Homo sapiens: one gene and its partners. The protein of the gene in region 4 purifies or fractionates together with the protein of the main gene of each other region. This does not show direct contact. Each region holds a gene or a part of one and is shown on either strand. Other genes may lie near its edges.

Region 1 (4,030 bases), on a different chromosome or scaffold from region 4:
GTATCTCCAAATGGCCCAATTATGTTACAACAGTAAAACACAGAAACTAACAAGGGTTTAAAAAAAAAAAAAAAAAAAAAGAGAAAAGAAAATGCTTCATTCAAGGTCACACCTACTACCCCCATCTTCAAATCCTAACTCTGCCAAGTATGAGGTATATTACTCAGAGAAGTTATTTCATCTCCTTGGAATACATTTCCTTGATAACTATCCTAGGCTGGGCATGGTGGCTCAGGCCTGTAATCCCAGCACTTTGGAAGGCTGAGGCGGGCAGATCACCTGAAGTCGGGAGTTCGAGACCAGCCTGGTCAATATGGCGAAACCCTGTCTCTTAAATACAAAAATTAGCCAAGCATGGTGGCATGCGCCTGTAATCCCAGCTACTTGGGAGGCTGAGGCACGAGAATTGCCCGAACCTGGGAGGTAGAGGTTGCGGTGAGCCAACTGCGCCACTACACACACTCCAGCCTGGGTAATACAGCAAGACTCTGTCTCAGAAAAAAAAAAAAAAAAGTGTATCCTAAAGCACCATTTTTTTTAAAAGAATATGTAACTGCATATGTAAAATACCTGGTACTTATTTTATGCTACACAAACGCTGGTTCCATTCTCTTGTTTCAACAGCTTAGGCTACGATGAGAGATCAGAACTGGGATAGTGGCAGTGAAAACGGAAAAGTGATTTAATAGTGACAACAGAACACAGATACTGTGCAAGTGAATGAAATAATGGTGAAATGAGTTTTAAAATACTAAATTAGTTTGTGACTATGTGCTGAGCAGGCTTAATGGAATTATCTGGATTGGTTTTATCAAACCAGCAGCAAAATGACACTGCCAAAACTCTTGGTGTTTCCTGATTGAAACACCAAGGAGAAAATCCCACTGATTAGCCACTGGTAGAGTTGGGTTTTCTTTTAAAAATCAAGTTAACAGACTATATAAAGAAAAGAAAGCTGATCTCTACAAAGGACCAAGGCCATGACACTCAAGTACAATCTGCTATTGCCTGGCCCTAGAACCCTCCTACACATAAGAGATGAGTTCTTCAAGTGAGGCAGACTGGAAGGCAGAAGGGGAAGTGAATCCTAAGCAGCTTGCTGTAAACTCAACCTGGCTCACTGGCTGTGAATATTACATAGCAGGACTGACAGACACAAAACACAGGGAGGAAAGGCAGCATAAAAGCTGACATATGTAACTCCAATTATCAATAAAGCATTGGAAGGACAAATAGTTGGTTGTCCTTTTAACTTGGACCTTTTTTTCCTTCTCACTTCAAGATACTGATCTAGCCTATCTTAATCCTTTAAACTTAAAACATTTTATACAGATGTTCTGCATATTTAAAATACCAAAACAGAACAAAGTTCAATCTAAAAGTAAAATATGTTACTTCACAATAACCTATCATACAGGTTAAACATAAAATTTTTTATATAGTACCTACTATTAATAGTATTGTCATTTCAGGTAATATGTGAATCAACCAAAAGTAGTTTTAGACTGCAGTGTTAAATTAAACAGAGCTAATAGTTCTGATTCAATTTTAAGTTAGGCTGATTCAATATGAGCTATACTTTGACAAGAATGCTAGTAGACACTATATACAATCTTTTTAAACCAAGAAAACATTATAGCCCTACCCAAATGTAGATCTAAAATCCATCAGAGAAGAAAAGATGCTTAAAAGCAAGCTTCCTAATTAGGTATTATAAAATTAAAATGCTTTTAAAAATTGTAGAGATAAGTGCTTTATTATCCTATTTGTCCTTTATAGGTTTCTGAAATAGAAATAAGGAAAGAAGCCTGGGCACAGTGGCTCACACTTATAATCCCAACACTTTGGGAGGCTGGGACAGGTGGATCACTTGTCCCAGTTCAAGACCAGCCTGACCAACATGGTGAAACTCCCTCTCTACTAAAAATACAAAAATTAGCTGGGTGTGATGGCGCACACTTGTAATCTCAGCTACTCAGGAGAGGCTGAGACAGGAGAATTGCTTGAACCCAGGAGGTGGAGGTTGCAGTGAGCCAAGATCGTACCACTCACACCACTACTCCATCCTGGGCAACAGAGTGAGACTCTGTCTCAAAAAAAAAAAAGAAGGGAGGAAAGAAAAGAAAGACACTAGCATTCCCCAGATGAGCAGCTGGTTCCCTGAAGAAGTCTTTTGGTAAAGAGAGAGGGAGAAGAGTTCCTGGATATCTCCAAAACTGACTCATGAAGGAATGCACATAACGCTATGTTTCTTCCATCTACTTTCTGTTTCTTTGCTTGAATGTATTCTCAAAACACAAATTCTTTCTACTCCACTGTAAACTTTTAGAGAGCAATATTCTTACTCACTTAGGACACAGAGTAGTGTATATAAGAGTAGTGAAACATAAGTAGTATTCATCTTTAGACAAAACTCCTTAAAAGACTGTGAGATATTACATATGAAAAAGTTTAATTTACATTGAGGTATATTTATAGTAATAACTTAATTCACTGTATCTACACATCAAGAATATCTCATATAAAAAAATATATTTGGCCAGGCATGGTAGCTCACACCTGTAATCCCCACACTTTGGGAGGCCGAGGTGAGCAGATCACTTGAGGTCAGAAGTTTGAGACCAACGTGGCCAACACAGTGAAACCCCATCTCTACTAAAAACACAAAAATTACCCAGGCATGGTGTGCACACTTGTAATCCCAGTTACTCTGGAGGCCAAGGCAAGAGGATTGCTTAAGCCCAGGAGGCGGAGGTTGCAGTGAGCCGAGACTGCGCCACTGCACTCCAGCCTAGGCGACAGAGTGAGACTCCATCTAAAAAAACATATATATATTTGATCTCTGATCATGGCAACTCATAACTAAAAAGAACTCCTAACTAAATGATAATTTTGTATGTGGTATAGAAGAAAATCCAACTTTATGTCCCATCCTGATATTAGGAAATCAGTGAAGTAGGAGATGCCGCGAGGACCAATAAAGACACAGACACTAAAATGTGATGGTTTCGTAATAATAGGAAGGTAGTATTCCTTACCTGTCTCAACAAAACTAAATGTAGTAGCACTTACTACATGCTGTTATGTACTTAATTACACAGACAGTAATACATCTAAGATTATCTAAGACTGGGGGGAAAAAACCCTTAACTTTAAAGCATAATTGCTTTTGACAAACCAAGAGAAACTTTCTTTAATTAAAGAAAAATACCTTTTTGTAAACTTACTTGCTAATTTGGCCTGTAATCCAGAAGGTCCAGGTTTTGATGTCTCTGACTTAGAAGACCCTGGAAGAGACAGTTTTGTTTTAGGAAGGCTAACTTTAGGGCTGAAACGAGCAGCCCAATCAAATTTTGAAGAGCCACCAGTTTTACTCTGTTCCTTTTCCCTGCTACTTCTTCTGGGGCTGGGACTGGACGCTGAACGGGAACGCCTGGCCTTGTTCTGATCTTTTCCTTGTTTCACTCTGGCACCTGGTGGTACAGTGGAGGAGGCCGAGGCTACAGCAGAAGACGAGGAGGAAGTAGAGGCAGCAGAAGAAGAATCAGTGATGGTGCTACACCCAGCTTTGGCTGAGGTGGCTGATTTTGAAGCCAGCTTGGTAGGTTTCGCAGATCTCTCTTCTGCACCAGTTGATTCAGACCCGGAGCCACTCTTTACACAAGAACTCTCTGTCCTTTTTCTTTTCTGACTCCGTGAACCGCCAGTGGCCCCACTCTTCCTGGTATGAGCCTTGCTTGTTGATGGTGATTGTGCAGATTTCAGTTGTTGCTCCTGGTCTAAATGTCTCTTCTTTGACTTACTATGTGGCTTATTTGTTTCTGAGGGAGATTCAGTATGCTGAAGTGCTTTTGGTTTTTTTGCAGAGCTAGGAGAATTGGTCCTGTTGTAGTCTGGACTAGCACTGCGCTTCACTCCTCGAGAATTGTCTTTCTTAGGCACCTGCCCCGTTTTTTGTCTTTCTGAAGTATTGGCTCTGTCTGGATCCTCTGGTTGTGGAACTATCACAGCAGATGATGAACTGCAGCTT
Region 2 (4,596 bases), on a different chromosome or scaffold from region 4:
AGAACAGAAGCAGCGTACTGAGCACCCCAGTGGTAAGAACTTCATCTTTTAAAAAATCAACATGAAATTGTTTATTGCAGGACTTCTCAGAACCTTTAATGTGTTGAGAAGAACTTGATCTTTGGAGACAGAGGTAGCTGTGTTTGACTGCCCCCACCACCCAACCCAACTTCGGTTCCATCTCTGAGTCTTTTTTTGCTGTTTGATTGACTACAAAGTACCTCCTAGCTCTGAGTTCAGATCATGATTTTTTCAGTCCCTCCACTCTTTCCAAAACATTAAAATCCTCACCTTCCTTCTCCCCAGATGATCACCCTCCCCTCAACCTGCACCCAGCCTACCTCTTCCAAAGACCGCGGATTGCTCATTTCTCCTTTGGTTGTGAGTCCCGGCTCTCAGCACCCTTGTCTGATCCTTGGAGTCAAGAGAAGATAGGTTAAAGTTCTCTAAAGGGAGGCCGAGGGGCTCAGGGGACAAACTGGCTTATGTATCTGGATTTTTGAGACCAAATAGCACTCAAGTGGTGGGGATTTGGTCTGTGGACAGATCTGGGCAATAGATGATAATCCATGAAGTAGTAATATATCACCCCTAGAATGACAATTTCACGATGTCTTCCATTTCTGGATGTCTTCTTCAGAACTGCTGAGCCTACCCCACAATGTCCCCCACTCCGCCCCCAAAAACTTCCTGTGTCTCCCGTGGGTCATTCACCAGCTTCTGGTGGACTGAACTTCCCCTGAAAGCCCTGGAATGAGGAGCAGGGCAAGTGACCCATGTGTTTGCCTCTTCTACCTAGGAGATGACGGGCTGGGGAAGCCATCTCAAAGAGATGCCTTGGAGGAGTGTTTAAAAGGAGAATGTCATCGAAGTGGGGAATGCAACTTTGATATTATCTCACTGGGTCTCCAATACGAAGGGGTCAATCCACCTCCCTTGCTCTTCCTTGAGTCTGAATGTCTGTCCACATTCTCCATTCTCATCTCTGAGTCCTGTTCTCTTCTCTGGCTGCACAGACAGACTTTTGTCATACTCTTGGCATTTCCCCATCTCTTTGCCTTTTCCTACACTTTCTCCTCAGTAGGGAATGCTTTTTGCTTTTTTTTTTTTTTTTTTTGAGACAGAATCTCACTCTGTCACCCAGGCTGTCTGGGGTGCAGTGGCATGATCTCGGCTCACTGCAACCTCTGCCTCCTGGGTTCAAGTGATGATCCTGCCTCAGCCTCCCGAGTAGCTGGGACTACAGGTATGCGCCACCATGCCTGGCTAATTTTATTGTATTTTTAGTAGAGACGGGATTTCACTGTGTTAGCCAGGATGGTCTTGATCTCCTGACCTCATGATCTGCCCACCTCAGCCTCCCAAAGTGCTGGGATTATAGATGTGAGCCACTGCACCCCACCGGGAATGCTTTTTTTTTTTCTATCTAGATCCTTCTCTGACAATTTTGGTGGCATAATATCTGCTATGCCTTCCCCCATCAACCATCCATTCATCTATGTTTTTATCCATCTATCTATCCAGTCACCCATCAATTCATTCATCTATCCATCTACCATCTATCCATTAATTCATCATCTATCCATCCATTCACCCACTCACCCTTCCATCTATTCATCTGTCCATCTACTTATCTATTAATCAGTCATCCCATCCACCCATCCTTCCACCCGCACATCTATCTAGTCATCCATCAATCCAATTTAACATCCATCCTTTTATTCATCAACCCATCCACCAATTTATCTTTCCACTTACCTATCTATCCACTCATCCATCCATCCATCCACCCACTCACACATCTATTCATCCGTCTGTCTACCCATCTATTAATCAGTCATCCCATATACCCATTCATTCTTCCATCAACCCATTTATCTACCCATCCATCTATCTATCCATCCACTTATTCATCCAACCACTCATTCATTCATCCATCCATCCATCCATTCATCCATTATCTCTCTCTGTCTTCCATCCCTCCATCTATTCTATCTTCCAACTATCCCTCCATCTAGCCCTCCTTCTATCCATTCCTTCATCCATCATCTCTATCTTCCATCTATCCATCCACCTATTTACTTATCCATCTACCCACCCACCCATCCATCCATCCATCCATCAATCCATCCACCCACCCACCCACCTACCCAGCAAATATTTTCTGGGTATCTATTATGTGTTATGCACTTAGAATCCATTAAGTAAGACAGACATGCTCCCTGACTTTCTGTCCTTCTGTAGCTCTAGTCTGTGACAGAAATGAATATTAAATCTCTCTCTCTCTCTCTCTCTCTCACACACACACACTCACACACACACACAGCAAGTGCTGTGACGAAAGAGGAGCCAAAGATTGTGAGGGAGGAAGTGGAAGGAGCATAGCCCTGGAGCCAGAACCGAATCCTGCCTCAGTCCCTTCCCAGCTGTGTGACCTTCGGCATCTCACTCTCCTCTCTGAGACTCGATTTTCCCATCCGCAAAGGACCTGGGGAGAGCTCTAGGTGCTTAACAGCAATGGTGACCCAGGTAGGTTTTAGGATCCCTCTTGACCTCCTGGAACTTTCCTCTTCCTTCTCTGGACTCTCACAGCTCTGCTTGCTCCTACTTGAATTACAGCAGTGTTTTTGATTCTTACTCTCATGGCTGAACTGGCAGCTCAGTTTTCAGGACTGAAAGCCTGACTTCATTATCTCTGTCTCCATCATGGCCAACAGTGTGGCAGGGAGCACAGAGGTGGTGTTGGAGAGAATTTGCTGAGTAAACAAATAAGAAAAAAATGAACAGATGAAAAGAAAGAGGGGATGGATGGAAATTTCTTCCATTCTGCCAAAACTGGCCAGAGCATTAATTCATGAAGGGAGAGGGAGCGTATGTGTGTATGTGCGTGTGTGTGTGTGTGTGTGTGTGTGTGTGTGTGTGAGAGAGAGAGAGAGAGAGAGAGAGAGAGGCTAATATCCACCAAATCACTTACCAACTCTAGAGGCAGCTGTTCCTCAAGGCCAAGTTCAATCTCACTACTCTCCTAGTTGCCAATACTGAGCTGGGCACCGAGGAGGAGTCAGGCCCACGTACTGATCTTGGAGAAGGGGCTGACAGTGTGGAATCTCCCGGGGTTTCTCCTGAGAAGCCTGGTCTATGAATCGGGTGGCACAATCACCTGGCCCTTTATTGTCGGTGAGTTTTCTGTCACTCAAGAAACCTCATGACACACCCTTGGCACACAGCTGTGGTGTGGAAATGGAGCCAACGCCAATGGGATGAGTGATCGCAAGGCTGAGGGGACTCCCTCTGGCAAAGGTGGCCTAGGCAGAGAGTCTAAATGAGTCAGATGTCTGTGCCAGCCCAGCCACAACCTCTCCCAACCCCCATCCCATAGCCAGCCCATCTGGTTATTACCATCATCATTATGCCTAGTTTATTCATCTCACCTTCCACTGTGTAGATAACACCGACTTCACTTAGTTATTATCTCATCGAGTCTTCAAGAGTCTAGACAGATCAGTATTTTTGCTCCCATTTTGCAGATGGAGAAACTGAGGCTCATAGAGGTGAAATGACTGCCCAAGGTCAGCAATTGGCACAGTTGGCATTCAACCCTATAAGGGGTGAGGTGTGGTGGGTCACGTCTGTAGTCCCAGCGCTTTGGGAGGCCAAGGCAGGAGGATCGCTTGAGGTGAGGAGTTTGAGACCAGCCGGGGCATAGTGAGACCCTGTCACTAAAATAATAATAATAATAAAAATGATGGCATATACCTATAGTCCTAGCTACTCAGGAGGCTGAGGTAGGAGGCTGGCTTGAGCCTAGGAGTTTGAGGCTGCAGCGAGCTAAGATTGTGCCTCTGCACTCCAGCCTGGGTGACAGAGCAAGACTCTGTCTTAAATATAAAAACAAACAAACAACCCCTAAAATGTTCCAGCCCAGTTGCCTTAACTGATGCATCATGATGATTCCTCTCTTCCTCCTCCTCTTATTATTTTTCAGCCATTTTGTTTCATTTTATTTCTTATGTTAATAGTGAAACCAAAGGCGAACCTGATTAAGCCCTCCAGACTTAATCTGCCTTGCGTTTAATTGCTTACTTACTTTTAATTGCTTACTTATAGTTGATCTTAAAAGCGCCACTAGCAAGTCACGTAGCCAAATAATGCATAACTAAACTCCCACTGGCTTCCTTACAGATAACATTTTTGTCTGTGGGACACTATAGTAATGGGTGCTTAAAGTTGTTTTTCAGGAACTAGGTAGGAGGCAGCTCTTGTTTAGTTTAAGCCAGTGGAGATCACTGACCCTTCAACTGCACCTATGTGGGTAGCTGATATCAGAGGGCCGTAAACTCCACCTTCAGATCATGCTAAATGCTATTTTTTGCACAAATGTCCTATCTAAAGCCATGTAGCTCAACCATGCTTGCTCAGAAATTCTGATTACCTCACCTTCCCTACCTGCCAGTCACCTTTCTCCGTACTTTAGATCACCCCGTTTTCTATCCCATAAGCACCCTCAAACCCTATTTTTGGGGAGGAGAATTTGAGACCTGTTTTACCACCTCGTCGCTTAATTGCCTCATGAACGAACTCTTCCTCTTCTGCAAA
Region 3 (4,030 bases), on a different chromosome or scaffold from region 4:
TAGGATCTCATTCTGTTGCCCAGGCTAAAGTCCAGTGGTACGATCACCGCTCATTGCAGCCTTGACCTCCCGAGCTCAAGTGATCCTCCCACTTAAGCTTGAGACTACAGGTGTGCACCACCATGCCTGGCTAATTTTTTTTTTGGGGGGGCGGGGTCAGTGGTAAAGACGGTCTGACCATGTTGCCAGGACTAGTCTCGAACTCCTGAGCTCAAGTGATGCCAGGGCTAGTCACTTCTCCTTCTCCTGCCTTCACCTGTTGAAGTGCTGGGATTGCAGGTGTGAGTCACCATGCGTGGCCGAGTTTCAATGTCTTCTATTGAACAAAAGCCCTAAATCCTATGCCCTGCTCCCAGTTAGAAATACCAATTTTATTTCAGTTTTAATAAATCTATCTTCTTGTGAGAGAGTAAGCTAACAAAAATTACGCTTATATTTCAAAAGAAATAAGAATGTCTTCTGTTTGCAAACTTGGTCCTACATTGGGATATGGCAGGTACCACAAAAAAATGAATACGGTTTATCCGCATTAGTAAAGAAAAGAAATGTAATTTATAGTGCCCTCTACTGAACATCTTCAGATAAACAGCCAAAAAGGAAATTGCCACCAAAATATATTGGAAATCATTTAAGAAAAAATCATTAAGAATGTACTTGTAAAAACTGGCTATTACCTTAAAGCATTTCTGAAATAAGGTAGAGCATAACTGTCAATTATAAACAGCACTGATTACTAACATACCTTTTAAAATTAAAAAGCATAAAACTGAGGTGTGTTTTTCCATTTGAATGTTGTGATTTTCCTGTTTAAGAAATTAATTTTTACTTCACATTATCACTAAAGCAAAAGTAGAGCCATACCAATCTTGGGAGTGCCATGCCAGTAACTGAGCACACAAGTTTGACTGTTTGTCCATAATGGATGTAGCCATCTCGGACTGTGAATTCTTCTCCTTCTGATTCATCATCATCCACTGCAGTAGGTGGAAAAATAAATCAAATTGTCATCTTTTTAAATTTATTTTATGATTAGGCAAATGACAAAACTTAATATATCCATGTATCTCATCAAAAGATTTTAACAATTTCACACTAAAAACATTAAATGCACACTTTTATACTCACAGAGATGAATAAAAAAGGCTCCCCACTGCTGTGAACTGGCATGAAAATTACCTCCTTCTACATGCAAGTATCTGGTACTAACTGTCTGGGATCGTAGTCGATTAAACAGAGCCACCTTTGTTCCTGAGGCAATGCATACTGCAAAGAAAAAACAGCTCTTATTTATGTGATTGGAGCAGAAGGTGGGGAGGGAGCAAAAGAAGGAAATTCTGCTTGGCAGTGTATAATTATTCTTTCTTATCATTTAACAGTTTGACAAATATTTTCACTTTCCAAGACAGTACAGATGATATCAAAAAGTCAAGGTAACTGTTATTAATAATGTCAAGCTAATGATATCAAATGTCCATAAAAATAATTTTAAAGTGAAAGCTACACAGTATGTTTAATGTGGTGCTGATTATTAGAGAAAAACTTACTTTTAAAATAATGTTAGACAGTAGAAATTTAAATGATGACCTATTGAAAGGATGTGTATCTAAACACACTGATAAGAAAATATTTTCCTGGAATATCACTGAATGGAAAAGCAGACTATAAAATACTCTGTATGCTGTGGTTCCATTAGGCAAATGTATATATTTTTAATATGTGTTTGCATCCAATTCCACAGAATACATGCATAGAAAAGGGACCAGAAGGATGTTTGTCAGAGTTGATGGTAAATGCCTCTGCATACTGTGATTTCAGAAAATTCTGCTTTCTTCTAAATAAAGTATTGTATGAAATTTCTTGAAAATAAATCCATGTAAGCAGAAAAACATTCTGAAAGTGAAATATGTTCTCTGCCATCAAGAAACTAATATTCAGTACAAACACAAAGTTAAAGCAGTTACATAAAACTGTGTAATCTGAAATGCAAATAGCCTGAATACAAGACATAATATACCTCCTAGTGCAAGAGAGCACACCACCACCTTTGAAGCAGGTCTTGCTTTTCAGAAAGAAAACAAGAACCAAAGGACAACAAACTTAAATCTGATCACCATTCTACACTAAAGATTCTCTCCTTGACCATACTTTTAAGCAGGCTGCTCTGAGCAATCAACTAGTATTTGTCCTTGAGCCCCGTCATCAGTCTGTTTAGCTCAGTTATATATAGTAAGAATCCTCCTAAACTATCTCCCACTCTGGATCTATGATCACCTTGGCCTGCCTTTAGCAGGAATCCTAAGTCAGGTCAGAAAGAAACCTTCTACCTTTGATGTCTCCTTTTAGAAAGTTTCCATCCATTGACCCTCTCACTCTGCTTCATCCCCAAGTGTCTTTGTTGTATTCTGAAATGGAACTTGGTTCTATTTTCCCCTATTGCAATAGTACTGAATGAAATCTGTCTTTCCAACTAGGCCCACGCTCTATTTCTTTTTGACTCTACCAATTTACAGAAAATACATTAAACTATACCAAATAAATGAAATCAGCAAAATCTAGTACGTGGAAATCTCTAGTGACTAAATGTTTCAACTTACTTAAATAAATTGCAAGAGTTGAGGGGGTGTCCATAGATTATACTCAAGGACATATCACAATATAAACTGTACTAAGTGGTAGATCTGAATTTTGATTCAAGCAATCTGATTTTTAAAATATTTTAGACCATTTTAAATTTGAACACTGATTGGATATGCATCAAACTAAAATAAGGGCAGAAGAAAGTGGGGCTGGAGTACAGGTATAGATGAAGATAAGATTGGTTGAATGTTAAGATCACTGTTGACGTTAGAGAATGAACATAAGAGGTTTCACTGTATGGTGCAACTCTGTCTACTTGAGAGTGTTTGAAATTTTTCCGTAATAAAAACTAAGTGATATTAGTGGACTGAGTGGACTAAAATATAACCAATACAAAACAACAACAATAACAACAACCACAACAAAAACCATGATCTCATAATAAAACAAAATGAAAAGAAAGCAAACAAAACAAAAACCCTAAAACCCCACTGGTCACTTTCAAGGAATGTTATTATTCTGCAAATGAGTAAACAAGCACCTAATCCTGCCTTTTCATTACATATTACAATTGAAGCAAATAGCTGATATGGCAAAGTCCCTCTTTGTAGAAAAAACTCCAGCTAACGAATGCAGAAGTTAGAATTTAAAAAATTAGAATATCACCATTTTGCAGCATTTAATGAAATGGATTTAAACATCATCAATGACTATTAAAACCATTAGGTTAAAGTTTGCTGAGGAACTTTATGGGTGGAATAGACTTACAACAGCTGAACTACTATAATCAATCTCAACATGACCAAAAAAAAAAAAGGGGATAATCAGATATTATGACTTCCAATCCAATGGAAATAAATGTATATCTTACCAATCAGTTCTGAAAGTCTTTATGTCTAACCACCAGTTCATGGAAAGTAAGAGAGACAGAGAAACATATAATCAGCCAAACCCAGAATATGGAATTCCACAACAGGAAAAATGATCCAGTTTCTTCAACAAATAAATGACATAGAAGGAAAACAAAGGTGAGAGAGGGTGAGAAGAAACTATTACAGACTAAAATGTGTGGACCTTATCTGAATCCATGTTTGAACAAACCACTGTAAAACAAAACAAAGCAAAAAAACTATAAAAAGACATTCTGGGTCAATCTGATAAATCTGTACATGAAATAGGATATTAGATGACACTTAAGAGCTGCTGTCAACTGTTACGTATAATGATGTTTCAAAAAAAAGGGCATGTATTAGTCACTATTGCAGAAATTTTGGTTGAAAGGATAGGATGAGATTTACATTAAAATACTCCAGCAATTAGAAGACGAAGAGGTGTTGGTGGTGATGGAGATAATGAAACAGAATTGATAAAACCTGTTGAGGCTGGGTGGCTAATTTCTCCCTTTTATATAAATTTGAAAGTCTCAGCCAGGCATGGTGGCTCACGCCTGCAA
Region 4 (4,030 bases):
GCCAGAAGGAGGTAGAGGGTGGGCTAGAGATGGGAACTCTAGGGAGGAGGCACATATACAAGTTCAGGCAGGCAGGAAGAGTACCTGGGGCTCTGCCAGAGGGAATGGAGAGGAAGGAGATGAACTGATCAAATATGGAGGCAGTCAAATAGGACATGGGAGGGGATTTAATGTGGGGAGACAGAGACAACAAAGAGTTAGAGGACTGAAGCCTTCCTTTCCCTCACTTTGGTCCTCAAAGCCCAGTCCCTAGAGTACGCAGCTCAAGGGCATGGAGGTTGGTGTGATGTTGAAGGCTGATGAAGATGAGAGTTTCTAATGAAGCAAGGCCCTAGGGATGGCAACTTCAGGGACACTGAGCTCTAATCACTAACCAGGCACTTGTCCAGTCCTGGTGGGTAGGATAAGAGGGTATGGAAGTACATTTACCTCCCTGCAGGATCTTGGAAGGAAAATGATTGGGACCAGAGTAATCAGTGGAGAAAAAGAACTAGACAAACTGTAATCAGGGAGTCTTGCTGCTACAGGAGGTCATAGGAGGAAGAGTCAAAGCATGTGGTGTTGGTTGGAAGTAGTTAAGGAGGGCTTCCTGCCCAATATGGTCTAAGGATGGAGAAACTTTGTGGGTAGAGAAACAGGAAGGGGAGGTGGCCTGAGGGCAGTTGGTGCCAGATTTGATGTTGAAGCCCTTGCCAAAGCCCTTGCTTACTTTTCCCTTCCCCCACAGGAAAGCGTCCCAAAAAGGGCCTGGCCACAGCAAAGCAGAGACTCGGCCGTATCCTGAAAATCCACAGAAATGGCAAACTACTTCTGTGAGCCCTCCTGTGTCCCACCCCTCACCCCTTTACCCCCATTGCCTTCTCCATTGTCAACTCTTGGGGCACTCCTGGATCCTATCTGCCCTGGACAAGGTGCTGAGGTGCATTGTCCTGCTTTCTTGGGACTTACCAAAGGCACGGACCCCTCCACCGACTCCTTCTAGTTCCCTTCCCCACTTTCACTAGAGCATCCTGCCTGCCTTCTCCACTGAGGAGCAGGTAAATGGGAGAGGTTTCCAGCTGACTAGAACCCTCTTTTCTACTCGTCCAAACCACTCCCGTCACCTGCCTTGTCTGTTCTTTATTCTTCATCCCCCGCTAGAGCTGGAAGGCAGGATGAGGAGAGGTATGAAGGAGCCTGAGCCATGAAGTGGGAAGCCCAGTGCTTGACACTTTCTGCAACTCTAGCCCTATATCCAGAAGCCTGCCCACCTCCACCCATTCTGTTTGCCCCATTTCCCCAGTCCAGTGGACATGCCCCACCTCCAGACTTGCTCATGGGAGAAGGCTGTGGTCTCTGCCCCCTCTTGCCAAATGCTTCATGGAAATGAAGAGGAAGGCCTAGAGCCTCCTTCCTGCCCCACTGTGGGCCATTTCCAGAAGTGGCCTAGAAATGCCAACTTCACTTACCTTTCAAAAGAAAGGTGATTCCTATCACTTGTCAAGGTAGGGAGAGGTCAGATGCCCAAGCCTTTGACCACGGTTTTGTAGCCTGTTGGAGGAAGCTACTTTTAGCTGGCTACACATGAGGCCACTTGTTTTAGGGTGAGCTCCAGGGATTTGCCTGGATTTTGAAATCATGTAGAACATTATCCACGTGGCTGTGGCTGTGGCTGTGGCTGGGCCCTGGCAGGTGGAAAACCATCTCCCAGAAACCTGAAAGCACCTGCCAATGACGCAGATAACCCTGGCCCTACAGCCTGCTTGCTCCGCCTATACCACAGAGCACAGCCTGGACATTATGGAGGGTGTGGCGGGACGGCCCACACCTGGGTCCTCCATCGGGAACTTTTCATGCTTCTTTCTCCACCTGAGGTCTTGGTCTGAAGAAGACCTCAGGACTCACATCTTCACTCCTGGGCCTTTGCACTTCCAGACGACAGGTCATCGTTCAAGCAGAATGCAGACAGGCCATTCACGAGCCCAAGTTGAAGAGAAGAGACGCCCATCCGTGAAGGAGCAGACCATCCATCCGATCCTCCCCTTCCCCTGTCCTTCCTTCGTGGATTGTCTCCATTGTCCAGACAGTGCCCCCACCTCCCACCGCCTTGCCTCACTGGCAATCTGGACTCGATGGAGAACATCCCCCCACCTCCATTTGGCACTACCCAAGTGGAGTGTACCCTTGCCCTTTCCACCTGTACCACCCACTCCAACCTCACCCCAGCTTGCCCAATGCTTCTGGGGAATTTAATAGCTACCATGCAGGCCACAGGGAATTTGTGAGGCTTCTTTTGTCATCTTTGTATCTCCAGTTTGTCTTTCTTTTCTCCATAGCCCTGCCTCTACTTTCCTTCCTTGGAATCAGGGGTTCCTTTAGCCCATTTGCTTTCTCTACCTTGGGGACCCCAGGGGCCAAGCAGTTCTCCATCTAGTCACACCAAAGGCAAAAAGCCTGGCTACCTCCCCCCTAGCACGTGAGTCCCTACTCCCCTCCCCTCTGTTTCTGCCCAGCTTTGCTTATTTTGGGGATTTCAAGGCAGCAGAGGGTAGTGAGGGGAGAGCAGGAGAAGCCTCTGTCCTGTATAGGCAACTGCCTGACTATGCGGTGACTGCTGTAACCAAGATCAGGTCCCCAGCCCTTTTGTCCATTAACACCCCTTCTTGATCTTTCAAAGGCAGCTAATTGCTAGCAAATCCCCCCGATTCCGGCCTTTTCCCTCTATTTCTTTGTTAGAAGTTTTCTGTGGAGCTGAAACCCAGCCTCTGTTTGACTGGGTTTCATTTAGCTTAGTTGGGTTCTTAGAGCCCCCTGTTTGTTGTTTTGTGTTGTTTCCAATGAAAAGCAAGTTTACCCTCAGAGTTATGCTTTTCCAAAGAGGCTGATGTCTTTGTTTTTGTTTTTTTTAATGTTTCAGGTTCTAAGTGAAGTGAGTTGGGGAGGGGTTGGGAGTGTTAGTAATCAAGGTTTAGAACACCATGAGATAGTTACCCCTGATCTCCAGTCCCTAGCTGGGGGCTGGACAGGGGGAAGGGAGAGAGGATTTCTATTCACCTTTAATATATTTTTACAAAAAAAGCAAACAATTTAAAAACAAGCCCACCGCTTCTGTACATGTCTAAATATATTTTTAGAAGTGGGTAGGATTGTGAATTTCTGATGCAGGGCCTTTTTATAAATAGGTTAGGGTAGCATCATTCAGACTTCTCTGTTGTTTTTGTCCCTGTCTTTTTCTTATGTTGTGTTACTAATGTAATTTATATTTTTTTTAGATCCTCCCTTTCCTATAGAGATAAAAGTGATTTATCTTGGCAATTGCTTTGCTTGGCATTCTTTTTTTTTGTGATGAGGGTGGTGGTGTGGTGCAGGGTCTGGGAGTGCTGCCTTCTCCTTGTACTCTTTGTCTCTCCCTCAGCAAGTTGTCAGGCATTTCCCTGGTGCTCAGCCTTATGCTTGAAGTGGGAAGGGTATTCCCACCCTCAGGAGGGACACGCTTCACACACCTGAAGTAGATCATCAGAAGCAGACTGAGCAGAAAAGAAAGGGTGCAATAATTCAAAGGGGCCTAACAAGTTCAATGGGAGGGCTTTCCAGAGACTGCTTTTTCAAGTGTGTCCTCTTTCTGTGAATGTGGGATTTTTTTTTTCTTTCCCTCTCTCTTCCATGCACTTGTTGTGCAATCTGGACTTGATTACTGTGCTTAGGGCCAGTACATGGGTTAGAAGAATATAATTATCAGAGCTTGTTTTCACGATTATCGCACTTGTTTTCTTGTGCCAGGCACTGCTCTTAATACTTTATTGATTCATTTCATCCTCACCAACACCCTCATCCTGCCAGCGAAGAAACAAAGTAACCTTCCTGTATCATACATGAAAATTCTGGGACCAACCTGGTTCCAGAATGTGTATTCTTACCACTCTGTTCTACCACTTCTCACTGATAAACACTACCATTATATTAAGTGCCTTTTGGGTGCCAGGCATTGGGCTAGGGATTTTACTTAGGGATATCTCATTTAATCCTCACTGAAAAACCCCATGAGGATATT
Region 5 (4,030 bases), on a different chromosome or scaffold from region 4:
CTTACTAGATTATAAACTTACTGAGAAATGAGACTGAAAAAAAAATCACTGAATTTCATAATACTTAGCGTGGCATTTTTCTAAAAGTAATTTCTCATTGATTACTTGCTAAAGTAACTAAATTAGCAAGCTGGCATTTAGCTCATTTAAACCCCATTCTGGTACAAATTCACCCCTTAAGTTTTTCTCATGGTAGCATCATTATTGCAGCTTTACACATAGAAATGTTACTAGTTTGGGCACATGGATTTATGTAGTTTAAGGAACTCTCTAGCTCCTCACTTTACTTATGTATTTATGTATGTATTTAAGAAATCACAAGGGCCGGGCATGGTGGCTCATGCCTGTAATCCCAGCACTTATGGGAGGCCAAGGTGGGTGGATGACCTGAGGTCAGGAGTTCGAGACCAGCCTGACCAACATGGTGAAACCCCGTCTCTACTAAAAATAAAAAATCAGCCAGGTGTGGTGGCGCATGCCTATAATCCCAGCTACTTGGGAGGCTGAGGCAGAATTGTTTGAACCTGGGCGGCAGAGGTTGCGGTGAGCTGAGATTGCGCCATTGCACTCCAAACTGGGCAACAAGAGCGAAACGCTGTCTAAAAAAAAAGAAGAAGAAAGAAATCACAAAATATTTGGTTAATTTTAAGGAACATGTAGGAAAATCAGGTGTTAACAAATAACCAGCATTAATTCTCTAATCTGGATTTTATTCTATCATTTGGAGAAGGAATAAAATAGAGAGGGGTGGTTAGGCTTTGAGTATATCCATGTGTCTATAGATTTATCACCGACATTTTTTCTAATAGCTAATGAATTCAGTGAGCAAAGCTGGTTGCTATTTCATGCATTCACACAAGTCAGATCTGCTTTTACATCTTTTTGAAGGAAGTGTTTAACTGACAGGGCAATGACGTGAAGCTGGAAAACACACTCGAGAGATTCTGGCTATTCCTCTCAGTGAGAAACTGAAAAATGTTCCAAGTATTCCTGGCAACTTAATTTTTTTTGAGACAGGGTCTCACTTTGTCACCCAGGCTGGAGTACAGTGGCACAATCTCGGCTCACTGCAGCTTTGACTTCCCAGGCTCTAAGCAATCCTCCTGCCTCAGCCCCACAGGTAGCTGAGATTACACCTGGCTAATTTTTGTATTTTTTGTATAAACAGGATTTTGCCATATTGCTCAGGCTGGTCTTGAACCCCTGAACTCAAGCAGTCCACCCATCCCAGCCTCCCAAAAGGCTGGGATTACAAGCGCGAGCCACTGCACCCAGCCAGGAACTTAATTTTTTTTTAAGTGCTTTCTAACTCTGCCAGGCTGCAGAAGTTAAATAATAAGACATGCCCAATAGCATCTGGCATCCTCTTAGTGCTTTTAATTTTTTTGTCTACTGCTGGTAGTGTCTTTTCAAGTGTGAAGTTATTTGCTGTTTTTTGCAGTGAATTTATAGACAGATGGACTCTTCTCCATCTCTACATTTAATGAACAGAAATGTATTATCTATTCTTAACTCCTACTTAAGGATGAAATCATTTACTTTAAAAAAATACAACTCCTGTTTAAATGGAGTATTTAGTTACTTTTATTTTTTCCTCTCTTTACACTATTTCAAATCTTACGAGTTCTATTTTAAATTAAAAGTCACATTTTAATAATTTACAGATTAAATTCTATCGCATGAGACATCATTACAAATCTTGTAAGAAGTATCAGGATGAATATGGTGTTTCTTCTATCATTCCAAACTTTCAGATCTCTCAAGATTCAGTAGGGAACAGGTAAGCAATACTTATTCCTAAATACAGAATTTTCATAATTGAAATGGAAATTGTTTTGGGAACTATATGATAAGGTATTTGGGGGGATGTGTGTGTGTGTATGTGCACATGTGTTTTTAAAGTGAATTGCCAAGTATCAGAACTACAGCATTTGCCTTAAAATCTGTTTGGCACACGTAAGCTCTCATCTGGGAGATGACTTCATGAACTTCAGCTTATGTTATTTAAAATCATTCTAAGAATTTTCATTTTTTTGAGTAAAAAATAAGTTGGAGATTTTTCTCTTACTGATTTTGCAACTGAAATGATTTGAAAAACTATAGAAAATCCTTTTCAGTAATGTATTTGCAAACTACAACCTGTTTTTTCTTTGCTATCTAAGGGATAGACTTAGAGTTTGAAATTTTTATTCTAAAATGTCATGTAAAAATGAAACCAGGTGCAGTGCAGTTCTGTTTGAGTCTCATTTCTTTTAAACAACTAGATTTGGATTGATTTGTATCTTATCTCAGATTCATGTACATTAAACATTTTTATGAAATGTATTTTACACAGAAAAATGGCCAAAATGCACTTGTGGTTTAAAAAAATAATGATTAACATCCAGTTACCTATTAACCCAGGTCAAGAAAGAACATTTTTCAAAACTTCAGGATCTCTATGTGAGCTCCTGCCCATTTGAACCGTACACTCCTAGATGCAACCACTATTCTCTTATTTGGATTATTCATTCCTTTGATTTTCTTTATGTATCATCACCCATGCATGTATCCCTAAACAATGCATTGTTAATTTTGAAAACTTCAGTAGTAAGCACATACGTAACTGTAAGGAAAGACAATATTGCCACTATTATAGAAAGGTTCCCAGGAGACAGTATGTTAAGCAGTCTCTAATATTTTATTTTAGTAGCCTTTCATTTTACATATTGCTAATTTTTAGTAACTTAACCGCCCTTAAGCACTTCATGTTGATCATACTACATTAGGCGTCTTCCCTACTCAGTTGAAATTTCTGGTAAAAACCTTTAGTGATTGTCTGGTAAAGATCTGCAGTAATTTTCTGATTGCCTAGTCTGAAAAAACTTCAGGTTCTCATTTTACTTGACTTGTTAGTGTCAAGGAAATTTGTTTGAAAGTTGTTGCTCTTATAGTTTTTTTTTAGTCCTTCTGGGTTTCTTCATTTCTATGTTTTTCTTATTGTTGTACTTCTACTTTATTGTAATTTCCTATCTGCTTTTTTACCCAATAGATTGTTCTTAAGTGAGGGGATGGTGTTTGTCTTGTTGAGCATATCTCCAGCTTTTAGTAAAGTTCTTAGTATACATGATTGTAATCACGCTTTTAATGACCAAATTTTCTTATCAGGAGACAGGCCTTCCTCCCCCTTATTTCTTAGATCCACTTGGTCATAGACACTTGATTCCTAATAGCAATATTCCTCATCTGTACTTTTATTTTATCTTGTCACTTCCCTAGCTCAGGCCCTCATCATCTCTCACTCGAACTATGATAATAGCCTTTTTAGCTGGTAGTTATCCTCTAATCTGTTTTACATTCTATCGCCAAAGTAATATTAATGAAGTATAAAAGACAAAATTCTGGCTGGGCGCGGTGGCTCACACCTGTAATCCCAGCATTTTGGGAGGCCAAGGTGGGCAGATCACTTGAGGTCAGGAGTTCAAGACCAGCCTGGCCATCATGGTGAAACCTTGTCTCTACTAAAAATACAAAAATTAGCTGGACGTGGTGGCGCGTGCCTATAGTCCCAGCTACTTGGGAGGCTTAGGCAGGAGAATCACTTGACCCTAGGAAACGGAGGTTGCAGTGAGCCGAGAGCACATCACTGCACTCTAGCCTGGGCGACAGAGTCAGACTCCGTCTAAAACACACACACACGCACACACACGCACGCACGCACACACACACTTCCTTATTCCAAAGCCCTTTCTGATCTGGCCCTTTCCTCTCTTTTTATAGCCTCTTTCTTGGTTATCCATCGTTGCATCACATGCCTTAGCCATGTTGATTTATTTGTTCCCTCTCTTTGCCATTCTTGAAAAACAGTATGACTGTGGTTAAAAATGTGGGCTTGGAGCCGGAATGCTGGGTTCAAATTTCAGATGTCACTTACTAATTGTATTACATTGTCAAGAAACTGCCTCAGTTGTCTCATGTGTTTAAGGAAAGGTATGAGAGGCGATGATGATGATAGGTCCTCATTGAGTTGAAGTTAATAAATAAGTTAATA
Region 6 (4,030 bases), on a different chromosome or scaffold from region 4:
ACTTCCGTGTTCAAAGAAACAGCAACTCCACCCATCAGCCGCCCAGGCCAAAAGACTTAGGAGTCATTCTGGACTCTTCTCTTGTCATGTTGGCCAATTCTGTTAGCGCCACCTTCAAGACACATTTAGACTCTACTCCTTCCCTCTGTCACCACCACTGCCTGGTTCCAAGCCACCTGTGCTGCAGCACTGGCCCCTAACTGGCCAGTCAGCAGCCACACTTGCCCACCGTCCAACCACTCTCACCAAGGACGCCGTAAAACATCAGACCGCACCACGCTTCAGCACAAAACCCTCTGATGGCTTCCCGCGGCACTTGGAACAAAAGCCAAAGTCACTGCCATGCCCTACAAAACCCTACAGGAACCCATCCCCCAGACTCGGCCTGTCTGGAAGCACTTCCCGCACTCATCTGCGCAGCCTGCTCTGCCTGTGAGAACTGATCATCCACTTCCCATCGAGTTACAGCCCCATCCCATCGCCCTCACTGCCTGGCCTTCACGACATGCTGTTCTATTTTTCCCCTGGCAGAACATGAACCTGAAGAGGTGGCGCTCTCCAGCCTGCCTTCTGAGGCCCCCTCAACGCCCCGCGGCATGTCTGGCGCTCAATCTGCAGGACAAATGGGCCCAAGTTTCCAAGCCAGGCCCACACTGTAGATGCCACCCACTCCCTAGGGTGCTTCGCGGGACTTCTGACCAGCTGTTAGGTGTGAAAAATAAAACACACCACATGGTCCCTGGCCTCAAACAATGAAGTGAAGGAAAGCCAGTGTGAGCACGTTCTAGCCATACCTCAGGCTGCTAAGCAAGGACCTCAGGCTGCCAGGCCAGCGGGACCAGCAAGCAGAGCACCGTGAGGTATGCTGAATGTGGACACGGGTCTGCCGGGGGGGGCGGTGCAGCCCAGCCTTTGTGGGGACAGGGCAGCAAAGCCAAGAGGAAACAGGCTCGACCTCAGCCAACTCCTCGGGTCGGGATCCCCAAGAGGCTTCCCACACGCAACCTGCTGGGACTCCGGCACCCATCATGCAGAAACGCAAGCAGGACCCTAGAACAGCTACCCTGAGCCTCAGAGTCCAGCTCTGCCCTCAGGTTGAGAGCCCTCAGCCCTGTCCTTTCTAGATTGGAGGACTGTCCTCCCCTCATTCATTCAGCCTCTCACCTGGTCTTGAGTTCAGAAGAGATGTTGTCGAAGAACGACTTGGATTTGTCATAGTAGCAGTTGGGCCCCAGAAGGTCTTCCTCAGCGGGCGCTTCGGCACTCTGGGTCACCACAGCCAGGTCCTTCTCTTCCCCCTTCTCAGCCTTGTCATCTACAAAAAGAAGCAGAACACGTGGAGATGGAGGAGGGGCAGAGCGCACAGCCTTTTAGCAGGGTGGTCCCTCCGGGCTCACTCGGAAGCCACCCTCAAGCTAAGACATCAACTATGCCTTGTGCAAAGCAGAAATCTCTTCTTCTACCTTCTAAGTACAGGTCTCGTTCTGCCGTCTGGGCTGTGCAGTCTGCACCTTATCCCACCCATTTTCACACCTCCCAGCACCTCACTTCATTAATTCCTCACTGCCGGTCACCATCCGCCTGGCATCCCCGGTTCCTCTAGGCATCTCTTCCTTTTCCTTGAGACAGAGTCTTGCTCTATCGCCCGGCTGGAGTGCAGTGGCGCAATCTTGGCTCACTCCCACTGCAACCTCCACCTCCTGGGTTCAAACGATTCTCCTGTCTCAGTCTCCCGAGTAGCTGGGATTACAGGCGCCCACCACCACGCCTGGCTAATTTTTGGATTTTTAGTACAGATGGGGTTTCATTGTGTTGGCCAGGCTGGTGTTGAACTCCTGACCTCAGGTGATCCACCCACCTCAGCCTCCCAAAGTGCTGAGATTACAGGCGTGAACCACCACACCCGGCCAGGCATCTCCTCCTAACACTCTCTAGGGGTACTCCTGTGCAGAGAATAATTTTCATATAATGAGCCAAACCTTTAAAATTCAGTTTCTTCTTAAATTCTTTGTCAAGCTCCTCTCGGTTGAACTGGGCATTTGCACTCTCGAAATCAAAGTCACCCTCAAATTTGATTGTGTTTTCCTTAACGTTAGTTGGACGGTTTTGCCCTCTGGAGCGATTCCTTGTTCGCCTGTTTCCTGTGAGGACAAAGGACAGCCCTGGCTGAAGTAGGTCACCAACCCAGTGATCTCAAACACCTCACAAGGAATTTCCAGGCACACCCCCAAGGCCACAGAAGGAACAGAGCACACAAGCAGCGACTTCACACCAGCACCCCTGAAACCGTCAACCAGAGAAGCAGGCAGGAGGGCAAGCAGAGCTCAGCCTGATCACTCGTGGTCCCCAGAAATCAAGTGGCAACAGGTGTTACCTGATCGCCTCCTCTGAGGTCTTCTGTTCTCGTCATTCACCTGCCCTTGAGCTTGCACAGCTGCCGGCTGGACTACATCTACGGCGCAAAAGGGAAGAGTAAGGCAAAGCTCCTATAGCAGCCGGAAGCCAGAACCCAGCTGTGGAAGCAGGCCCCACCACCATGGGGCACGCGGCCAGGGCGGCACCGCAGGAGGCTGCTGCACAGGCCTGCCCTGCAAAAGCACATGGGGCTTAGGATGGGGGAGTAGTATTTTTTTAATTAAAAAAAAAAAAATAGCCCAGGAAGTAGTGTGCCACTTTTAGAACATCAAGCAAACTCCAGGAAATGATGTGTTCAAGTACCGCTGGCCGTCTTGCTGCTCGGCTGGGCCTGACGACCGTTGAGCTGCGTCCCTGTGGTGCCCTTGCCAGGTAACAGCTTTTTAGCATTCAGGTTGTCAGCAGAACCAGTCTGCACAGCCTGCTCCACCATGGGGCTCTTGCCGACTGGGATGGATGGAAAACCAGCTCCTGAATTGAGGAGGGGAGGAGGGTTTAAAAACAGAGAGAAAAGAAGCAAGCCTTATATCTCCAGGCATTTCTCTTCTGCTGGCATGTCAGGAAGGAAAGGAGGGCAACTGCCTAGATGTTCTATCAAATCCAGGCAAAGCACCCCCAGACTGGGCCATTCCCTCTGAGGCTAGCCCAGGCAGCAAAAGAAGGCCAAGAGTCACTGGGCAGCACCAAGGCCAGTTCATCTTTGGACTCCCCACTCCCAAAGCCCTGAGCTTCCCAAGTTAGGGAACCTCAAGGACAGGAAAAACACCGTGCCTACAAACAGGCACCTCCCCAGAAGTGTGGAAACAGCTTTCTTAAAACCACACAAGCTCCAATCCCAAAGGAGCTCAGCAGCCCCAAGATCCTGATGAATTCAGGATCTGAGAATTTGTTTCATTCTGGTCCACACTGGAGAAGAACCAGCCCAGCCTGGGATTTTCTAGAAAATGCAGTGAACAAATTCTGAAGTTAAATTCTACAACACTGTCATTTCCACTTAAGGCACAATAAAACTAAAAATGATGAAGCAGGAGCTGACTTCCGAGACGTAGCAGCCTACACTTCTCTCAAGGGCAAAGGCTCATCATGAAGACACAAAGGGCTCCTAGGTAGCCTTTGGCAAGGGGCTATGCCTATGAAACTGCAGTCCGAGGCCCACGCACAGGGGATGAACCCTCAGAAACCAGGCCCTCTGAATCAGGAGGAAAATGGGAAGCACCACCCACCTCTCTCCATCTCCTCCCTTTCCAAGGTTCCAGGACCTGTAGGGACTCTAAACAGGACAATGTGGGACTGGGTGTAAGTGAACAGAGATCTGAAACAGAAAAGGCACCCTAACCACAGGGTAATTATTATTAGACGAACAGCCCAATACACATGAAGACTGGGCATCTCATCTTACTGCTTTTACGGAATAGAAATGAAAAAAAAAATTGACTGTAGAAAAATTCCTTGTAACCAGATCAAGAGAAGCTCTCAAAGGGCAGGTTGGAACGACTCTGCATAGAGGTCTGGAAAGTGTCCTCTGGCGGGAATGCACCCGGGCCACTTTCTCACTGATTGTCTCACTCAGCATGTCCGGGAGACAAACACAGCACTGCCTGCCTGCTGATCATAC
Region 7 (4,030 bases), on a different chromosome or scaffold from region 4:
CTAGGCAGCTTTTCTGAGCCTTGGGAGATCAGCTTGCAATGAATCCTAGACTTCTGTTTTCCCTTGTTGCCTATCAATAAGTAATAAATCCATTTCACATAAAATGTTGTGTATGAATGTGTTATGTCTGCTGGCTTCAGACAAGTTGGTAATCTGCACACAATAAACCTGCTTCATAGAGTTTAGGGAGTTAAGCCTGCTTATAGATTTGGAGGGCATCAACATATAGATGATATTTAGAGTTACAGAGCTGGATGAGACCACCTATGGCGTGAGAGTTTATAAAAGATATCAGAGTGCTAGCCTTAGGGCATACTAACATTAAGAGATCTAGAAGAATAAGGGGATACAGAAAAGAAGGATGAAAAAGGAGCAATCAGTGTGTGAAGCTTAAGGACATGACAAGACTAAAGAAAAATGAACCCAAAACAAGGCAGGTCCACATGTTTAGAGCTTTACAAACCTCACCTAAAAAAAAAAAGTAATTGATGAATTGATTTCAGTTCTTGGATGCCACAACACAGACTGCTACAACACGTTCATATCGCTTCAAAATTTTGTCTAAATTTTCCTCCACTGTTTCTTAATTCAACAATGTATTTCTCTGCAAAAATATCTAACAGGGCAGTATAAAGAAATTATTTTCACAAAGTTAATTTTTTTTCAGTGAAAAGGCAAATGTATACCTTCACTGGGACAACAGAATCACCCTCAAAAGAAATGCCATAAGCTCCAAAAACACACCTACTCATCTACCTACATGTGAGACTATATACTTGACTCTTCTGTTACCATGGATGACCTATTCCTAGTTCTCGCGAAGGCGACCTCCTCTATACACTAGTTCCTATCCTACTTGCAGCTACTAAGGGGCCCTATTTTAACAACTCTCCCATCTCTCTCTCCTGAATCACAAATGACGACTTTTCTACTGGATCTTTTCTGTCAATATAGAATTTATTTATCCCATGTCAAATCAAGCCAAAAACTCTCTTCTGTATTACCCTCCAGTTACCTCCCTATTTATCCCTCTTTCAGAAAACTTCTCAAAAAGTTATCTATATTCACTTTTCTTTTTTCTGCCTTCATTCTGTGAGAGTATGAACACAATCTAATCAGGTACTCATGGCCACTTCTCCTTGAAACATCTTTTTTACCTGGACTCCAGGACAATTTACTGGCCTAATTTTCCTCACACTACTCAATCTCTTTTGAATGTTGAACTATCCTAACATTCAAACGTTGAAAGTATCCCAGGGCTCCAACCTTCTTATATGAACTTACAGCCTTGATCATTTTATCTAGTCTCATGGATTTAAATAACACCTATACATTGATGATGCCTCCAAATCTGTATTTTTGCCTGGATTCAATATTCATATAGTTAAGTACCTAATCAACATCACTACTCAAGATGTCTAACAGGCTCCTCAAGCCTATTATATTCATACTGTATTTCTTAAGCTTATCAAACCCGTTCTTCCTATTCTCCACTTACTTCAGTGGCTATCCAACTTAAAATCCCAAATTGTACTCTTTTTCCCCTACACTCCTAATCCCCTTCCCTGCTTTTTCTCCACATCAGTTATCACTCTATAACATGTTACATGTTTTATTTATTTTCTTTATTATCATTTCCCCCAATGGAATGAAGGTCCACAAGGCAAGGATTTTTGACCATTTGGTCCAGTTGTAACCACAGCCCAAACAACTGTACTTAGCTTATAGAAGACACTCACTAAATATTCATGGAATAGATAAATGTACACTAATGAGACTATATACTTGTCTACAAGTGGCACTAGTGGCACATTAAGCTCACTTACCTCAACCATATTTTTTTCCAGCTCTTTGCGTTTGCTTTCCTCACATGCCAGATTTTTCTTCTTGAGATCAAATGCGCTTTGAGATTTAGTATTAACTCGCTGAGCCTCTGCAAGAGCATCTTCTAAAGATCGAAGTATACCTCCAGTTTCCTATAACAAAATGCAGTCAATTCAATCACTTATGTAAAATTTGTTCACGCTGTCATTTTATTGTATGAGTTCTGTATCAAACACTTTTTTATAAGTTATTTCATTATCTTACTATAAGATTAACAAATCAATACGGAAGACAATGCCCAATGAATCCTAAATAGTTACTATATATAATTTAGTACGTTTTTCACAGAGTATATTATCGATTCTTATACATATGTTCAGACCTTATCTTTTCTTTTTTCCAATTCTTCTATTTCATGATTAAGTGCTTTTATTTTTTTATCATTCTCAGACAATTCTTCCTGAAGCTTTATAACTTTATCTTGCATTTCTTTTAATTCCTCAGCTGAGCGTACTTTGGTATCTTCAGCCAGCAAAAACTGATAAGCAATATATAAACGACTCAAATGTTCTATTTCTCTCATTACTTTTTGGTACTCCAAGTAGGACGATCTTTCCTGAAAGAGAAATCACAAAAAAAGAATAACTCAAAATTGTATTAAAAAAAAAATTCAATTATGCAAGATGAAACAAATTTCTCATTACATAATAGATTTTGTCCTGTATTAAACAATTATAGCATTTTAAATTGTAGGAAACTTTACGTAACATCAGAAGTCAGGACTTTTAGATAGCATTCTACCATCTCTAGTGAATCTTATTTGGCTATTTCTTCTAACACACACTTGGGTAGTTGAGCTTAACAAAGAAATATGGACATAAGGTTCATAAGCTTACACACCCACCATGTTACACTATTACATGGATTCTGTAGTAGTAGTATCAAGATGCCTACTCTAATATACTTTGAAGCACTACTACAAGCACTCGCTTACATCATTACTAAACACGACTCCCATAAGGACCTACTGGGACCAGACAAAGTAATAACTAAAATCCTTAATTTATACATAAAAAACAAATTCAGAATGATTAAATGATCTGTCCATGTTGTTAGATTTAGAAAGCAATTGTGGCAAAATGAAGTCTAGGACCTAAGTTTAAATTCCTGATCTAGTGTTTTCTACTAAATCATACATACAAAAAGGGTATCTTCAAGATTACAATTTTTCCAGTAAAATTTATACTACTATATGGATTCACAAGACAGCTCTGAGTAGTACCAAATTTCAATGAGCATTTAATAAATTCCTAAAAGGAGATAGCTTTAAAAACGTCGTTTGGCTGGGCACAGTGGCTCACTCCTGTAATCCCAGCACTTTGCGAGGCCGAGGCAGGTGGATCACTTGAGCCCAGGAGTTCAAGACCAGCCTGAGAAACAATGAGAAACCCTGTCTCTACAAAAAAATAAACTAGCAGGGTGTGGTGGCATGCACCTGTAGTCCCAGCTACTCAGAAGGCTAAGGTGGGAGGATCCCTTGAGACCGGGAGGTGGAGGCTGCAGTGAGCTGTGATGACACCACTGCACTCCAGCCTGGGCGACAGTGAGACTAGTCTCAAGAAAAAGAAAACGTAGCTCATAAATGCATTTTTTGATGACATATTGTGCCATGTCTTTTGACAGTCAGGAGCTGCAAAGATTACAGAGACAATCCAATCCTCTGTTTCAATACCTTTTGCTTACAAAATACCTTGATAGCAATAATTATAGTGATAGCCCCTGTTATCCTGGAAATTGTTCTCAATGAGGGTGTCTAAGAGTGCCTTATCTTTAAGAAATGTTGTTCCAGTCAATGCTAACTAACTAGGAAAATCCAGACTTGCTTAGCTTAAATAAAGTATTAAAATTCGGCATACCATTTTCTGAAACTATAAAAATTACTCTCCAATATCCTATGACTTAGCAGATAAGTGCATATCCTCTGTAAGCAGAACGCTGAGTTATGGAGTGCCAACTCTAATTCCTTATCTCATCGCAGGAAAAAAACCCCCAAGAAATAGTATCACTATGTGTATGATTTTGGATACATTGCTGACTTTGAAAGACATTCTAATAGATTATCCTCACATATACAGAATATACCTCTTTTAATTTTTGAATGGTTGGAGTAATCTCTTCTTCAAGTATCTGGAAAATAAAGAAAAAT

What was found.
Region 1: the proteins of PHF8 (region 4) and TRIP12 purify together in Homo sapiens (affinity purification with mass spectrometry; one large-scale study listed by BioGRID and IntAct). This does not show direct contact.
Region 2: the proteins of PHF8 (region 4) and CASP14 purify together in Homo sapiens (affinity purification with mass spectrometry; one large-scale study listed by BioGRID and IntAct). This does not show direct contact.
Region 3: the proteins of PHF8 (region 4) and RBPJ purify together in Homo sapiens (affinity purification with western blotting; one large-scale study listed by BioGRID and IntAct). This does not show direct contact.
Region 5: the proteins of PHF8 (region 4) and RNF138 purify together in Homo sapiens (affinity purification with mass spectrometry; one large-scale study listed by BioGRID and IntAct). This does not show direct contact.
Region 6: the proteins of PHF8 (region 4) and LSM14B purify together in Homo sapiens (affinity purification with mass spectrometry; one large-scale study listed by BioGRID and IntAct). This does not show direct contact.
Region 7: the proteins of PHF8 (region 4) and SMC2 purify together in Homo sapiens (affinity purification with mass spectrometry, with the first as the bait; one study listed by BioGRID). This does not show direct contact.

Annotation. Positions count from the first base shown.
Region 1 is NC_000002.12:229,855,545-229,859,574, forward strand, and holds part of TRIP12 (E3 ubiquitin-protein ligase TRIP12), read right to left. Parts: coding exon 3,228-4,030; intron 1-3,227. UniProt on the Homo sapiens protein: E3 ubiquitin-protein ligase involved in ubiquitin fusion degradation (UFD) pathway and regulation of DNA repair.
Region 2 is NC_000019.10:15,048,024-15,052,619, reverse strand, and holds the start of CASP14 (caspase-14 precursor), read right to left. Parts: upstream 3,141-4,596; 5' UTR 2,975-3,140; intron 415-2,974; 5' UTR 369-414; coding exon 342-368; intron 1-341. UniProt on the Homo sapiens protein: Non-apoptotic caspase involved in epidermal differentiation. Is the predominant caspase in epidermal stratum corneum. Seems to play a role in keratinocyte differentiation and is required for cornification.
Region 3 is NC_000004.12:26,421,575-26,425,604, reverse strand, and holds part of RBPJ (recombining binding protein suppressor of hairless), read right to left. Parts: intron 1,264-4,030; coding exon 1,126-1,263; intron 975-1,125; coding exon 862-974; intron 1-861. UniProt on the Homo sapiens protein: Transcriptional regulator that plays a central role in Notch signaling, a signaling pathway involved in cell-cell communication that regulates a broad spectrum of cell-fate determinations.
Region 4 is NC_000023.11:53,935,944-53,939,973, reverse strand, and holds the end of PHF8 (histone lysine demethylase PHF8), read left to right. Parts: intron 1-727; coding exon 728-816; 3' UTR 817-1,914; coding exon of another isoform or gene 1,915-1,993; 3' UTR 1,994-3,294; downstream 3,295-4,030. UniProt on the Homo sapiens protein: Histone lysine demethylase with selectivity for the di- and monomethyl states that plays a key role cell cycle progression, rDNA transcription and brain development.
Region 5 is NC_000018.10:32,112,081-32,116,110, forward strand, and holds part of RNF138 (E3 ubiquitin-protein ligase RNF138), read left to right. Parts: intron 1-1,664; coding exon 1,665-1,780; intron 1,781-4,030. UniProt on the Homo sapiens protein: E3 ubiquitin-protein ligase involved in DNA damage response by promoting DNA resection and homologous recombination.
Region 6 is NC_000020.11:62,128,641-62,132,670, reverse strand, and holds part of LSM14B (protein LSM14 homolog B), read right to left. Parts: intron 3,747-4,030; coding exon of another isoform or gene 3,639-3,746; intron 2,887-3,638; coding exon 2,719-2,886; intron 2,453-2,718; coding exon 2,375-2,452; intron 2,142-2,374; coding exon 1,980-2,141; intron 1,316-1,979; coding exon 1,165-1,315; intron 316-1,164; exon of another isoform or gene 1-315. UniProt on the Homo sapiens protein: mRNA-binding protein essential for female fertility, oocyte meiotic maturation and the assembly of MARDO (mitochondria-associated ribonucleoprotein domain), a membraneless compartment that stores maternal mRNAs in oocytes.
Region 7 is NC_000009.12:104,100,370-104,104,399, reverse strand, and holds part of SMC2 (structural maintenance of chromosomes protein 2), read right to left. Parts: intron 4,012-4,030; coding exon 3,967-4,011; intron 2,441-3,966; coding exon 2,207-2,440; intron 1,977-2,206; coding exon 1,827-1,976; intron 1-1,826. UniProt on the Homo sapiens protein: Central component of the condensin complex, a complex required for conversion of interphase chromatin into mitotic-like condense chromosomes.